Regions from separate parts of the Homo sapiens genome. Here all the other regions are reported to be linked to region 2. The links are microRNA targets in miRTarBase. Many come from high-throughput screens and were not tested one by one. Region 2 holds a microRNA gene; each other region holds the end of a gene's coding sequence.

What was found. Region 2 holds the annotated microRNA hsa-miR-7-5p (UGGAAGACUAGUGAUUUUGUUGUU, at 2,259-2,282, shown strand). A microRNA usually pairs through its seed, bases 2 to 8, with sites in the 3' UTR of a target mRNA and lowers its output. Matches are read on the target gene's strand: a 7mer-m8 pairs with bases 2 to 8, a 7mer-A1 pairs with bases 2 to 7 and ends in A, and an 8mer does both.
Region 1: miRTarBase lists EIF3L as a target of hsa-miR-7-5p. The part of its 3' UTR that is shown has no 7-base or 8-base seed match.
Region 3: miRTarBase lists PFN2 as a target of hsa-miR-7-5p. Seed matches in the 3' UTR shown: 7mer-m8 at 1,987-1,993.
Region 4: miRTarBase lists NSD1 as a target of hsa-miR-7-5p. The part of its 3' UTR that is shown has no 7-base or 8-base seed match.

The regions. Positions count from the first base shown.
Region 1 is chr22:37,887,802-37,890,959 of GRCh38, reverse strand. EIF3L (eukaryotic translation initiation factor 3 subunit L) reads right to left here. Exons shown (of 13, transcript NM_016091.4): 13 at 1,553-2,534. The coding sequence ends at 2,496. Among named protein-coding and RNA genes, the nearest start is that of MICALL1, 17 kb to the left of the region's middle.
Region 2 is chr19:4,768,442-4,771,612 of GRCh38, forward strand. MIR7-3 (microRNA 7-3) reads left to right here and starts at 2,229; the gene lies at 2,229-2,338. MIR7-3HG (MIR7-3 host gene) reads left to right here and starts at 664. Exons shown (of 3, transcript NR_027148.1): 1 at 664-910; 2 at 1,189-1,316. RefSeq lists a silencer at 1,096-1,390.
Region 3 is chr3:149,963,796-149,966,795 of GRCh38, forward strand. PFN2 (profilin 2) reads right to left here. Exons shown (of 3, transcript NM_053024.4): 3 at 1,109-2,791. The coding sequence ends at 2,694. Among named protein-coding and RNA genes, the nearest start is that of PFN2, 5.6 kb to the right of the region's middle.
Region 4 is chr5:177,295,161-177,298,160 of GRCh38, reverse strand. It overlaps NSD1 (nuclear receptor binding SET domain protein 1), which reads right to left. Exons shown (of 23, transcript NM_022455.5): 23 at 1-3,000. The coding sequence ends at 2,702. Among named protein-coding and RNA genes, the nearest start is that of RAB24, 7.1 kb to the left of the region's middle. RefSeq lists enhancers at 1,460-1,959, 1,960-2,461.

The DNA of each region.
Region 1 (3,158 bases), not on the chromosome of region 2:
CCATCTCAAAAACAAAAACAAAAACAAAACAAAGAAGGCCGGGCACTGTGGCTCATGCCTGTAATCCCAGCACTTTGGGAGGCCGAGATGGGTGATCATCTGAGGTCAGGAGTTTGAGACCCACCTGACCAACATGGTGAAACCCAGTCTCTACTGAAAATACAAAAAGCCAGGCGCAGTGGCTCACGCCTATAATCCCAGCACTTTGGGAGGCTGAGGCAGGCAGATCACCTGAGGTCAGGAGTTCGAGACTAGCCTGGCCAACATCGCGAAACCTCGTCTCTATTAAAACTACAAACATTAGCCAGGCGTGGTGGCGTGCACCTGTAGTCCCAGCTACTTGGGAGGCTGAGGCAGGAGAACCGCTTGAACCCCGGAGGCGGAGGTTGCAGTGAGCCGAGATCGCGCCATTGCACTCCAGCCTGGGCAATAAGATCAAAACTCTGTCTCAAAAAAATAAACAAAAATAAAAATACAAAAAATTAGCCAGGCATGGTGGCATGCAACTACTTGGGAGGCTGAGGTAGAATAGCTTGAACCTGGGAGGCAGACGTTGCAGTGAACAGAGATCGTGCCACTGCATGCCAGCCAAACAAATAAGGTCATGCTGATGGCATCCAGGGCTTAGGATATGGACATGTCTTCTTGGGAACCACCATTCAGTTCCCAATAATAATTATCAAACCAATGGGGAAAAAGAGCATACTGAAAAGCTTACGAATTCCAAGTGTGGGGAAACAGTAACTGAACATCCATTATAGGCCAGGCACTGCACTGGGCACTCAAAATAGCATTCTCATTTATTCGTCACCACTGCCCAGTGAGCCAGGTTCTGCTACACTTATTTTTTATTTTTTTTAGACGGAGTCTCGCTCTGTAACCCAGGCTGGGGTCCAGCGGCACGATCTCTTGGCTCACTGCAAGCTCCGCCTCCCGGGTTCACGCCATTCTCCTGCCTCAGCCTCCCGAGTAGCTGGGACTACAGGCGCCCGCCACCACGCCCGGCTAATTTTTTTGTATTTTTAATAGAGACAGGGTTTCGCCATGTTAGCCAGGATGGTCTCGATCTCCTTGACCTTGTGATCCGCCCGCCTCGGCCTCCCAGTGCTGGGATTACAGGCGTGAGCCACCGCGCCTGGCCTGCTAACCTTATTTTATATACAAGGAACCAGGCAGAGATGTGAGACAACTTGCAAGCAGGGGCTTCCAGTCCAAGTACCCACTATAGGGTGACAGGCATAGCATTAATACTGTGGGTAGGCAGGAAACCATTTAGCTCAGCTCCAGCAGCTGCCTAATGTGACCTTGATCAAGTCACTAACTACTGTGGGTTCATTTCCTCATCAATAAGATGAGGAACTACTACTAAACCTGAGTTGTAAGGTGTAAGTAATGTATATGGATCCCTCTTTGCACAGTTCCTGGCAGTAGGAGGTGTTCAATAGTTTCCTTCCAGGACCCAGCACTGCCACAAATATGTCATGAAAATTATAGGTCATTTAAAGTTCATAGGATCTTGTGACGCACAAACAAAATACTGAACGTGAAAATGTCCTGTAAACCAAATATACTGCTTTATGAACAAGAGGGATTTAAGAATTCAATTTAGGGCTGGGCACGGTGGCTCACGCCTGTAATCCCAGTACTTTAGGAGGCAGAGATGGGCAGATCACGAGGTCAGGAAATCTGAGACCATCCTGGCTAACACGGTGAAACCCCATCTCTACTAAAAAATACAAAAAATTGGCCGGGCATGGTGGCGGGTGCCTGTAGTCCCAGCTACTTGGGAGGCTGAGGCAGGAGAATGGCAGGAACCTGGGAGGTGGAGCTTGCAGTGAGCCGAGATCGCGCCAGTACACTCCAACCTGGGCGACAGAGTGAGACTCCGTCTAAAAAAAAACAAAAAGATTTTGAATTTAGGCGGGGCGTGGTGGCTCATGCCTGTAATCCTAGCACATTTTGGGAGGCCAAGGCAGGCGAATCACTTGAGGCCAGGAGTTCGAGACCAGCCTGGCCAACATGGTAAAACCCATCTCTACTGAGAATACAAAAATTAGCTGAGTGTGGTGGCACACGCCTGTAATCCCAGCTACTTGGAAGGCTGAGGCAGAACTGCTTGAACCTGGGCAGCGGAGGATGCAACGAACTGAGATCACGCTACTGCACTCCAGCCTGGGAGACAGAGTGAGACTCCATCTCAAAAGCACAAAATAAAAATAACTCAATTTAAACACTAACAACTGATGTATCCTGAAAGCATCAGGACACATGGGAAATGTATTACTGCCACAACCCACAAATTCTCTCCTACAATAATGAGACGACAAATCTGGCTCCAAAGATCCTTTACTGAGATCCACTTGAAACACTTCGGTCCTTAACTTGTTAACTGAGTTGACAGGCTGATGGCTGATCTAGGTAAAGGTTTCACGGTAGCAAAAACACTTCCTGCCTATAATACATCAAAACAGGTTCCTGAATGTGTGTGAATATCATCAAGGTCTCTGTCCCATCTTCTTCAGGGTTCGATTAAGCTAGAAGAGAAAGAAAAGCAAAGTTACATACGGGGATTTCCCCAACCCCTTTCCTACAGTGTGTATGATCACTAGGTCAGATTCCCAGCTGCCCCTCTGAAGCCAAGAAAGGAAGTTTCTGATGTGGGTGTCCACTATGTGTGTGCAAAGCCGTGACATTCATATGGCCCTGCACAGTTCACGCGGATTATTCTTTTATCTGCCCTTCACACTCAACAAACCCATACACAACACTGCTCTATCCATCTGACAGAAAAAGGATTCAGACTGGCCAGACGTTTCAAGGTTACTAGTTCAGTTAGGGGAAGAATGAGAAGCTTTGAACAGGATCCTTGTTAGAAGACAGCCCTAGCCCACCACCCTGACAGATGTGATCTAAACAGCCAGAAAGTAAAAAGAGCAGCAGGGCTGTTATGATCCTGCAGGAAGAGCCTGACCTCTGCTGGAGAACTCAAAGCACCAGGACACAGTAGCCCTAGCAATGGCCACAAAGAGAGACCCACACCCTTACAGTGTTTGGCCTGACCCACAAGACCTCTCCTAGGGCAAGACAAGGAATGCACCAAGTATGTCAAAACAGAGCTTCCTGTCCTCCAGCCTACAGGAACTAGCCAGACCTGTCTA
Region 2 (3,171 bases):
TTCCTCAGCAAATACTCTACTATTATCACTACTTCACAGTTGCAAAAACTGAGGCACAACTGTGCCCAATGTCCCAAAGGAAGGAGAAGAAAAATCTGAACTTGAACCCCAGTTTCTTCGTTTTTTGGTTCAGAGCCTGCCCAGTATAGCACTACAATAAGCTGAATTTTATAAATTGGGTTTTGAGTTAAGGAATCAAAAGCTTCAGGCTTAAGTCCCACCTCTGCCCCAGAGTCTTCTGAGCCCTCCATTTTCACAGACGTCAGTTGCCCTAGGTGGAACTGGACTTTAATATTCTCCACATCCCTTATTTTTTCCCAAAACAGTTTACCAGCTTTTTCTTTCCTGAACCAGGAGCAATAGCAAAAATTGGGAATGGGAAGAAACAGGTACCAGCCAGGACACCTGAACGAACTTGGAGCTCAGGAACCCAGGAGGGGATTGGAGAGAGTGGGGAGACTCCATGGTCCACAATGAATGCTCCTTCCCCATCCGAAAAAATCCCCTAGCCCAGTTTTTGGGCAGATGCCAGACTTTTATTCTGAAGCGTGGGCCACAACCTATGAGGTAATCTTTGGAGCTTCATTCTGAGGCGGAATCCCATTGGCCAGTTGGGGAAGCCCCTCCCAGGATTCCTGGCGCTCCGCCTTCCCTGAAGCCTATAAAAGCGCAGGTCCCCGCCTCGGCAGCCACGGGACACCTGCATCTGCCAACAAGACTGGAAGCAGGTGAGGCACACAGAGGGGGAGGCCCGCAGCTGCGTGGGAGGAGGGGTGGTCTGAGGGACGTGGGATGCCGGGAATGAGGCTGGTTTGCAGGTTGGCGCATGGACATTTTCCCAGAAAGGGACAGAGACGGCGAAGTTTGACGGTCTGGAAAGCAGAGACCAGCAGGGCTGACTGCTTGGGAGGTAAGTTCTGGGGACATGGTACAGGGTGAGGAGCAGGTATCAGTGCTAGTTGCGACCCCTCTGTGTCTCCCCCCCGCCACCCCATTGCCATTCTGAAGCTCCCCAGGAAGAAGCTAGGAGGGGAAATAAATTGAGTGGGGGTGGGGTTTCCCAAGAATCGGAGGAACCGAGAACGAAGAGGGGTGGGGGAACGGGGAAAGAGAGAGGAAAATCAAGTTTTCTTCAGCACGAGGGACAGCTCTCCACCGACCGAAGGAGGAGAATGCTATTTATTTCAGCACCAAATATCCGGACAGCGCCTCTCGGGAGGTCCGAGAAGAGAACCGCGATCTGTTTCAGCACCGGGGCTCAGGACAGTTCCCAGCGGGCTCCGTTTCGTCTCCAGAACCCTGGACAGCTCCTCCAGGTAACGGGAGAGCCCTTTGACCCTGATTTTGCAGGGGGAGGACGAGAGAGGGTGGTCTGAGGTGCCTGGCATTTCTGGAGACCTGCACCTCATGTAATGGATTTTTAAACAAAGTATTTTCCAGATAAGCACACACAGAAGTCTGCAATTTTCTTTTTTTTTCGAGACGGAGTCTTGCTCTGTCGCCCAGGCTGGAGTGCAGTGGCACGATCTCGGCTCACTGCAACCTCTGCCTCCTGGGTTCAAGGGATTCTCCTGCCTCAGCCTCCCGAGTATCTGGGATTACAGGCACATGCCACCACTCCCGGCTAATTTTTGTATTCTTAGTAGAGACGGGGTTTCACCATGTTGGCCAGGCTGGTCTCAAACTCTTGACCTCTTCATCCGTCCACCTCAGCCTCCCAAAGTGCTAGGATTACAGGCGTGAGTCACTGCGCCTGGCCCAAGTCCGGAATTTTCAACAGGTAAGATACCTCACTGGGGTAACAGCTGCCTGCTAAGATGACATTATGGTGTCTCTTCCAGACTTCGGTGAGAAACCTTGTGCCAAGCATTTTACATACATCATATCATGCCATCTTCAACCCTAGGACATGGGTGTTACTGTGCCCATGTGACATTTGGGGAACCCAAGGCCCTGAGAAAGGCAGAAAAATAACCCACGCAGGGACTCTCAGCCCACAAGTGAAGCTGTAAGTCAACCCCACCAGTCCAACTCCAAATCCCATGTCTCTGACGTGCCTGGGTGGGAGGTGGGCCCTTGGAGATCAGACCCTGCTTCTCTCCAGGAGAACCGGGAATGGAAAACAGGGAGGCAGCACAGAGGCAGGAAACTCAGGTGTCATAGCTTGGCTCAGGTGAGAAGGAGGAGCTGGGCAGGGGTCTCAGACATGGGGCAGAGGGTGGTGAAGAAGATTAGAGTGGCTGTGGTCTAGTGCTGTGTGGAAGACTAGTGATTTTGTTGTTCTGATGTACTACGACAACAAGTCACAGCCGGCCTCATAGCGCAGACTCCCTTCGACCTTCGCCTTCAATGGGCTGGCCAGTGGGGGAGAACCGGGGAGGTCGGGGAAGAATCGCTTCCACTCGGAGTGGGGGGGCTGGCTCACTCCAGGCGATACAGGCACAGGCAAAGGAGGGAAGCAAACAAGGACATACATCCTGTGCTCATACAGCCATGCACCATGTATGGGGTTTGTCACATCACTCGTACGCCCCCACAAGCCTGGAGATAGAACATACCTGACTCTAAACCCAAGACCTCTAACCACCTTATGGCGCTTTCCTGGGAGACCCAATGAGGGAATGACATTTAAAGCCCTCCCTAGACCAGAGTTCTCAGGGTACTTTTCTATTAAAAAAAAAATTATTATTTTTTTGGCCGGGTGGCTCACGCCTGTCATCCCAGCACTTTGGGAGGCCAAGGCAGGTGGACCACTTGAGGCCAGGAGTTCAAGACCAGCCTGGACAACATGGTGAAACTCCATTTCTCCTAAAAATACAAAAATTAGCTGGGCGTTGTGGCACACACCTGTAGTCCCAGCTACTCGGGAGGCTGAGGCATGGGAATCCCTTGAACCCAGGAGGCAGAGGCTGCATGACCCAAGATTGCACCACTGCACTCCAGCCTGGGCAACAGAGAGAGATTCTGTCTCAAAAAACATTTTTTTTTTCTTTTTTGTAAAGACATGGTCTCCTGCCTCAGCCTCTCAAAGTGCCAAGATTACAGGTGTGAGCCACCGAACCCAGCCTAAGGATACTTTTCAATAAAAGTTCCAGAAGTGGGCTGGGTGTGGGAGCTCATACCTGTAATCCTAACATTTTGGGAGGATGAGATGGGAGGATTGCTTGAGTA
Region 3 (3,000 bases), not on the chromosome of region 2:
ACTCAACCACCAAATTTTCATTTGCCCCGTCTTTTGGCCTTAACAGGTCAAGAAACTGATACCAGGTTTTTATTATAGTTTTACAATTTCTAGGTTATGTCCAACTACCAAAATAGCCCCAAATCCTTTATCTCCCATATTTGTACATCCCTGTGTATGTACAACCATATTCACAACCAGTGCCTGACAACTAGTCAAAGAAAAAAAAACTTTCATTATGCATAGTATATTTTAAGACAGGTTAATTCCTATTCCCTAACCCATTTTTTCTCAAAAGGTAGCATATACACCACTTAAAATGAATCAGACTGACTCAGTGATTGTTTCTGAAAAGGGATTCCTGGGCTTATGGACTCTCCATCTCCAGAGTGGAACCCCAGAGTCCATAGTCTGCCTTATAACCAGCTCCCCAGTTTTACTGAGACCTACTAACTTTTGAGCACCCCTGGCTCTAAGCGTCCGCTTGACAGTTGTTGGTAATAATGATTTATGTAAATAGCCCTAAATTTACATATTTATCAAACTTCAATATATATCAGGGATTTTATGGCCTCTGGATTTAAACCTATTACACAGCCATGGTCAACATGTCACTACAAAGCCAAAAAATGCAAAAGCATCCCAATTATCTTATATGCTGCCTAAGGAATGTCTTCTGCTCTTATGTGGGAGGGCCCCAGCTGGCTGACTTCAGCCTGCCAACACAGCTTCCAAATCTAAAGTCATATGACATTTCAATACAGAAAAATCCACAATAGTGCAGAAACCCTTCTTGGTACTCCCTTTACTATTAGATTTCACATCTAGAAACCAGCAAGAAGAGGAAAATACTTATTTTCTAGCAGATAAGTCAGTTGCTTCTCACATACTCCTGAAGATGAGCCTGAAATGACTAAAAGCTATGTGTAACAGATCAGAGTCCATTAAAAAGAAATTCCCAGGCACTAATTTTATCTGTAATATTACTTGAAGTAGGCCATCACCTAATATTGCTGAAGTTTTATGCTTGCAGCAGACTTTGGCCTATTCTGTGTATTCCCACTTTGTCAAAAATCAACTTTTAACAGTTTATATAAACAATGTATATAAACAACAGGAGCCTAGAGTATTTGGTTGGAATAAATTTATTTCATCTGTCTGTAAACAAGGTGTTTAATAGTTATGGCATTTTTTTAAATGCATATTAAATCAGATGAGTTAGACTGTATCCCAGATGTAACAAAGTGCAGGGAAAGAAATGGACAAATCAGCAACAAGATTTGTTTTTAAATCTGTACATTATCCACAAGGCCCAAACAATAGAAGCAAATACTAGAATGTCCCTAAAGTAGTGCCATTCGAAAGAAACCCTTAATAGGTCAGTTAAAATCCATCTCACAATAGCAACAGTTCATTTTAACAATAGTATGGCACAGAATACATATGAAAAAAATTCATCACAAGACAGCCAAGTCCACAATAATGCAACTTCATATAAAAACTCAAGCTGCAAATAAAAATTGGTCCTATGAAGAACAAACTGGACACACTCCAGATGGTTATGTTGGGATACCTAATGTCCATAATGGCAGCCTTTTACAATTTTACTAAAGAGTAGAGCTGGTGTGCAAAGAAAAAGGAAGAAAAATCTGAGCTATTGCAATGATGGAATGTCCCTGGGGATTCAATCAGTATGGTTACTGTAAGGTCATGGGAGGAAGTGCTTTTTGCTCTTGTTTTGCCATTGCACTCTTCATATGTCCTGTAGACACTATGAATAAAGGTTTGTCTCTGCTCAAGTGCAACAACAATACTAAAAGCAAACTACTGCAGCTCTCAATAGCTCATCAACAAAAGGGATTTTAATTGGTTAAAAAAAAACAGGCACTGCATAAAAAAAGATGGAAGCAAACCAAATGCCTATGTGCGAAGGGAGGGGGGGCGGGAAAAAGAGAAGAGTGAAGGAATGATGCATGCACTTTTTCCTCCCAACCATGCGCTACAAAAGGAAGACTAAATGAGCCAAGTAAATGCTCAAAGTGCTGAAAAGACACTGATCAGAGATTGTACAACCGGCACCTTGCTTAATATTAACTTATTTTAGTAATCAATATCCCATTAATTGCTAAGACAAAGTGATGCCCAACTTGGCATGCCCCCTCCCCCCAATTTCAAGGTATCATGCAAATCATTATTGTGCTGCAATTATGTTGCCAGATAAGGGTTGGTTACATACAGTGGTTAACATACAAATGATCCATTGGGCAAACAGGAATCATGACATTAGAAAATAGGTAAAGAAAAATTAGCTACCATCTACAGTTTGGTAGCATTGTGACCATAATTAGGGTTGTTGATGAAGACAGTTGCTAGGTAGATGGGGAGAGGCTGCTTACACATCAGACCTCCTCAGGTATAAAGCGAGTTCATATGCTTTCTTGTTAAGTGTGCCTCCGTGGACACCTTCCTTTCCCATGACTATAACCAATGCTGGAGTACACAAGGAAACAAAACAAAAGTGAACAGAATTATTTTGGGGGGGGAGGGCAGAAAGAAAGACACCTTTCCCCACCAACAGAGGGATACAAAGGAGACACAGGTTCATACCCCATCACCCTGCATTGCTAATAAAATTTCCAGAATTAAGACTTAAGCTTATAGCTAGGAAAGTTTAAGAGCAATTTTCCCCTAATACTTAACAGTCTGCCTAGCAGCTAGAACCCAGAGTCTCTCAAGTATTTTGCCATTGAGTATGCCTTCTTATTCAATCCGCCTCCATGGACCCCTTCTTTTCCCATTACAAAGACCAAGACTGAAAGAGAAAGAAGAAAAGTGTTTCAAAAGAAGTGTTAATCAAGAAAGTCACATAAGTTTTAGCAGACAGAACCCGGATTAATAAGTTAACATTAAGTTAGTTTTCCATGAACTGCCAAGCACTGAAGTCAAGTAGGTTTCCAAAAAGAACTTTCAAACTAGTAATATACTAAACAGAAAATAGTAAACTTGACTGCATCTTGGAAG
Region 4 (3,000 bases), not on the chromosome of region 2:
AGGGCTGGCAAGGCCACTCCCTCCCCACCTTCCTCCAAGAGTCACATTTCCCAACAGTTGTTGTGACTCTGCTTCTAATTGGATAGTGACTGCTTTCATGATTTTAACCATCTAGTATCACATGCTGCTACTGGTGGGCCCAATAGCTCAAATTTCTAGTTTCCAGTGGTTTTCTAGTTCCCATTCAATGGCCCTTGAAGGAAGCCCAGATGTCCATCCATTCAGATGAAGAACTGCTCCCCAAAATGGCTCAGAAGCTGTTTTCCCAGGCAGGTCTGGAACGAAGCCTCCAATGAATGGCGGAGAATGGAAAGAACCAAAATAAAACCACAAAGCAGCCAATCATGGCCCCTTTCCCTCACTCCCTCCTGTCCTGTGAGACATCTAGACTGCTGTCAAGTTGATTACCTACCAAAGCCTACTTTAGAGAAGCTACTTTAGAATCAAACTTCTCCACGGAAAATTTTTACATGGCCTGCACGCCCTCCCCCCGCCCCCCCCAAATTCACAGTTTATTTCATGAAACAAAGAGCTACGGTAATTTAACACACAACATAGTGAAAGGAGACTCTGACAGTGCAGTGCAGATACCTTTTTCTGATCACAACTACAGATGACTGGAGAGAAAAGGGCACAGGACTGGCACCAAGCAAACCCTACTCATATGACCTAAAAGATTAGGGAAAGGGACCTACTAGCTGCAGTTATATATTTATTATTCTCACACATGATAAATACTTAATATAATGAACTTTAATGTTCTCGGTGAATTTCTTTAAAAATATCTTTTTCATGGTTTAAAATTCTTTTAAAAGAAAATAAGATGCTTTACGTTTTCTCTTCCTTTTGAACAAAGAGCTTTTCCTCTTTGATGATGTGGGAAGAGAGAGAGGATGAAAGGGGAGAACTAGGCAGGTGGAATTCACAGAGGAGATTCCGAGGTCTCAGTGAAATGCAGGGATAGGCCCCTAAACTCAGGACAGCCCTGCCCAGCCTCGTCCCTCTGCCTGAGTTCAAGTGTCTCAACCTCAGAGACAGACTTTGGGAAATAAAAGCAGATTCTATTTTTAATCTTTAGATAAAGCGCAAATGCTTCTATAATAACTACTGTTCCCTCCGTGGAATTGATGGGAGTAACCTCAATAAGAACTTGAGGAAATTGGGACCAAATACAGAATCCTATTGAGAGCGTGAAAGCCATAACTAAGAGATAATGGCCAGGAGACGTTAGGGCCGGGGATGGCCTGCTGGCTAAGTTGGCAAAGCAGAGAGGTAAACATGTTGGTCTAAGGACAAAGGAGGGGTAGACAAGTGGGAGGAAACTAGCCAAACAGCACTTCCTGTTGGCAGTCTGTGAGCTGGGTGAATGGTAGGGCAGGGTAGCACCAACAGATTTCCCAGCCCTTGGGCCCCAGCTCAGGGCAGCAGTAACAGATAATCAGCAGTTAATAGGAGTCATCTCTTAGCCTGGACGTTGCTCTAAACACCACCTCTTGCCAGTCTTCAGGGAAGGGTTCTGGCTTGCCTTTGAGCTAAGTCAGCAGGCAGGTGCTCTCAATACAGAGCACAGCAATTCTCAGGGAGGCGAAGAAGAGGACTCCCTCCACTCAGGAGGGAAAAGGAATGGGGAAAAGAAATTTCCCATCAGGATCTGGTACTCTTCCTGAAGCTGGTGTGTCTAGCTCAGAGCTTGCCAGAGATTCCCTATGTCCACTGCCCGAGGCTCTGAAATCTGAAAGCACCTGAGTGTTTTAGGGAAATAGGGATGGGGTGGATTCATGTACAAAGAGAAAAATAGGTAGAAACAAAAGCAAAGAAAGAGAAGCTTGCCAAATGCCTTCTTCCACTGCTGGAAATCTACATTCGCACAGAGCCCGACTGCCCCTGACCACCTGCTCCTCCAAGGACTGATCTTGAGACTCTGCACAGCCCAGACAAAAGCAGCAGCGGCGACCCCACAGCCAACAGCCTTGCTGGCCTCAATGCAGCACCCTTGCATCTATAGAGGAGACCTCTGTGAGTGTGCGCGCATGCACACGCACCCATGCACACCGCAGCCAAGAGACACTTCCTCAACACAACCACTTCTGGTGCCACAAAGGACATTTCAAAATGAGTCTAAAGCCCCAGGGCCCCTCAGAACTTCCTGTTACTTCCTGGTCAAAGGTTCCTGAAAGCCTTGGAATCCAGGCTCACAGGGATGAGGCCTGTATCTCTCATCAGTGACTAGCACCCGGCCTAGAACACGTGAATGCTCAGGAAATCGCCACTGATTTGAAAGAACACCATTTCCTCCCAAGGGTTCCTAGGTGCCCTCAATGGGGCTCTGTCTGGTTGGGGAAATCGCTTTGAGAGCCCCTATACCTTCCAACCTGACCAGCGGAATTGAATTCCATACTTGACTCCAGAGTGGACTTTTTATTTCACGATGACCATGTGGAAAAGTTGGGGGAAAGAGACCCAAGTCTGTCTGTCTCCTTGGTTGGGGCCCACTGGATTTTCATACATGGTTCACACAACCATAAGCCCCCACTGGCTAATGTCACAAGAGTTCTGAGTGTTGGGATATGAGGAAAGAATAACAGTGGGAAAGTGTTCGGGGCAGATGTGTTTTTTTTTAAGGGGGAAAGAAAGAAAAGATTTCCCCTCCCCAAATGGTACCCTGGGGGCAGCTTGTTTGTTCATGTGACATTGATTGGTACTACTTCTGTTCTGATTCTGCACACTTGTGACTGGAAGGAGCCTGGTTAAGAGCTGGAAGTGTATTTTGCTCTGGTTTGGGGTCTTGCCCTCTTCCAAGAGACCAGCAAGTCTGTGCCAATGTCTGTGTGCTCCCAGCAGACCAGCAAGACTGTGCCAGTGTCTGTCCAGCCACTATGGGCCAGAGCCCTGCCCGTGATGAGGCTTTTCCCAGGGCCCAGGGACTTTGCTCTGTGGTTACCAACTTCTTTTCTTCAGTGGGGAGGGAGGCTGGGGCCTTCCCGAGAGACCTAAAAGATT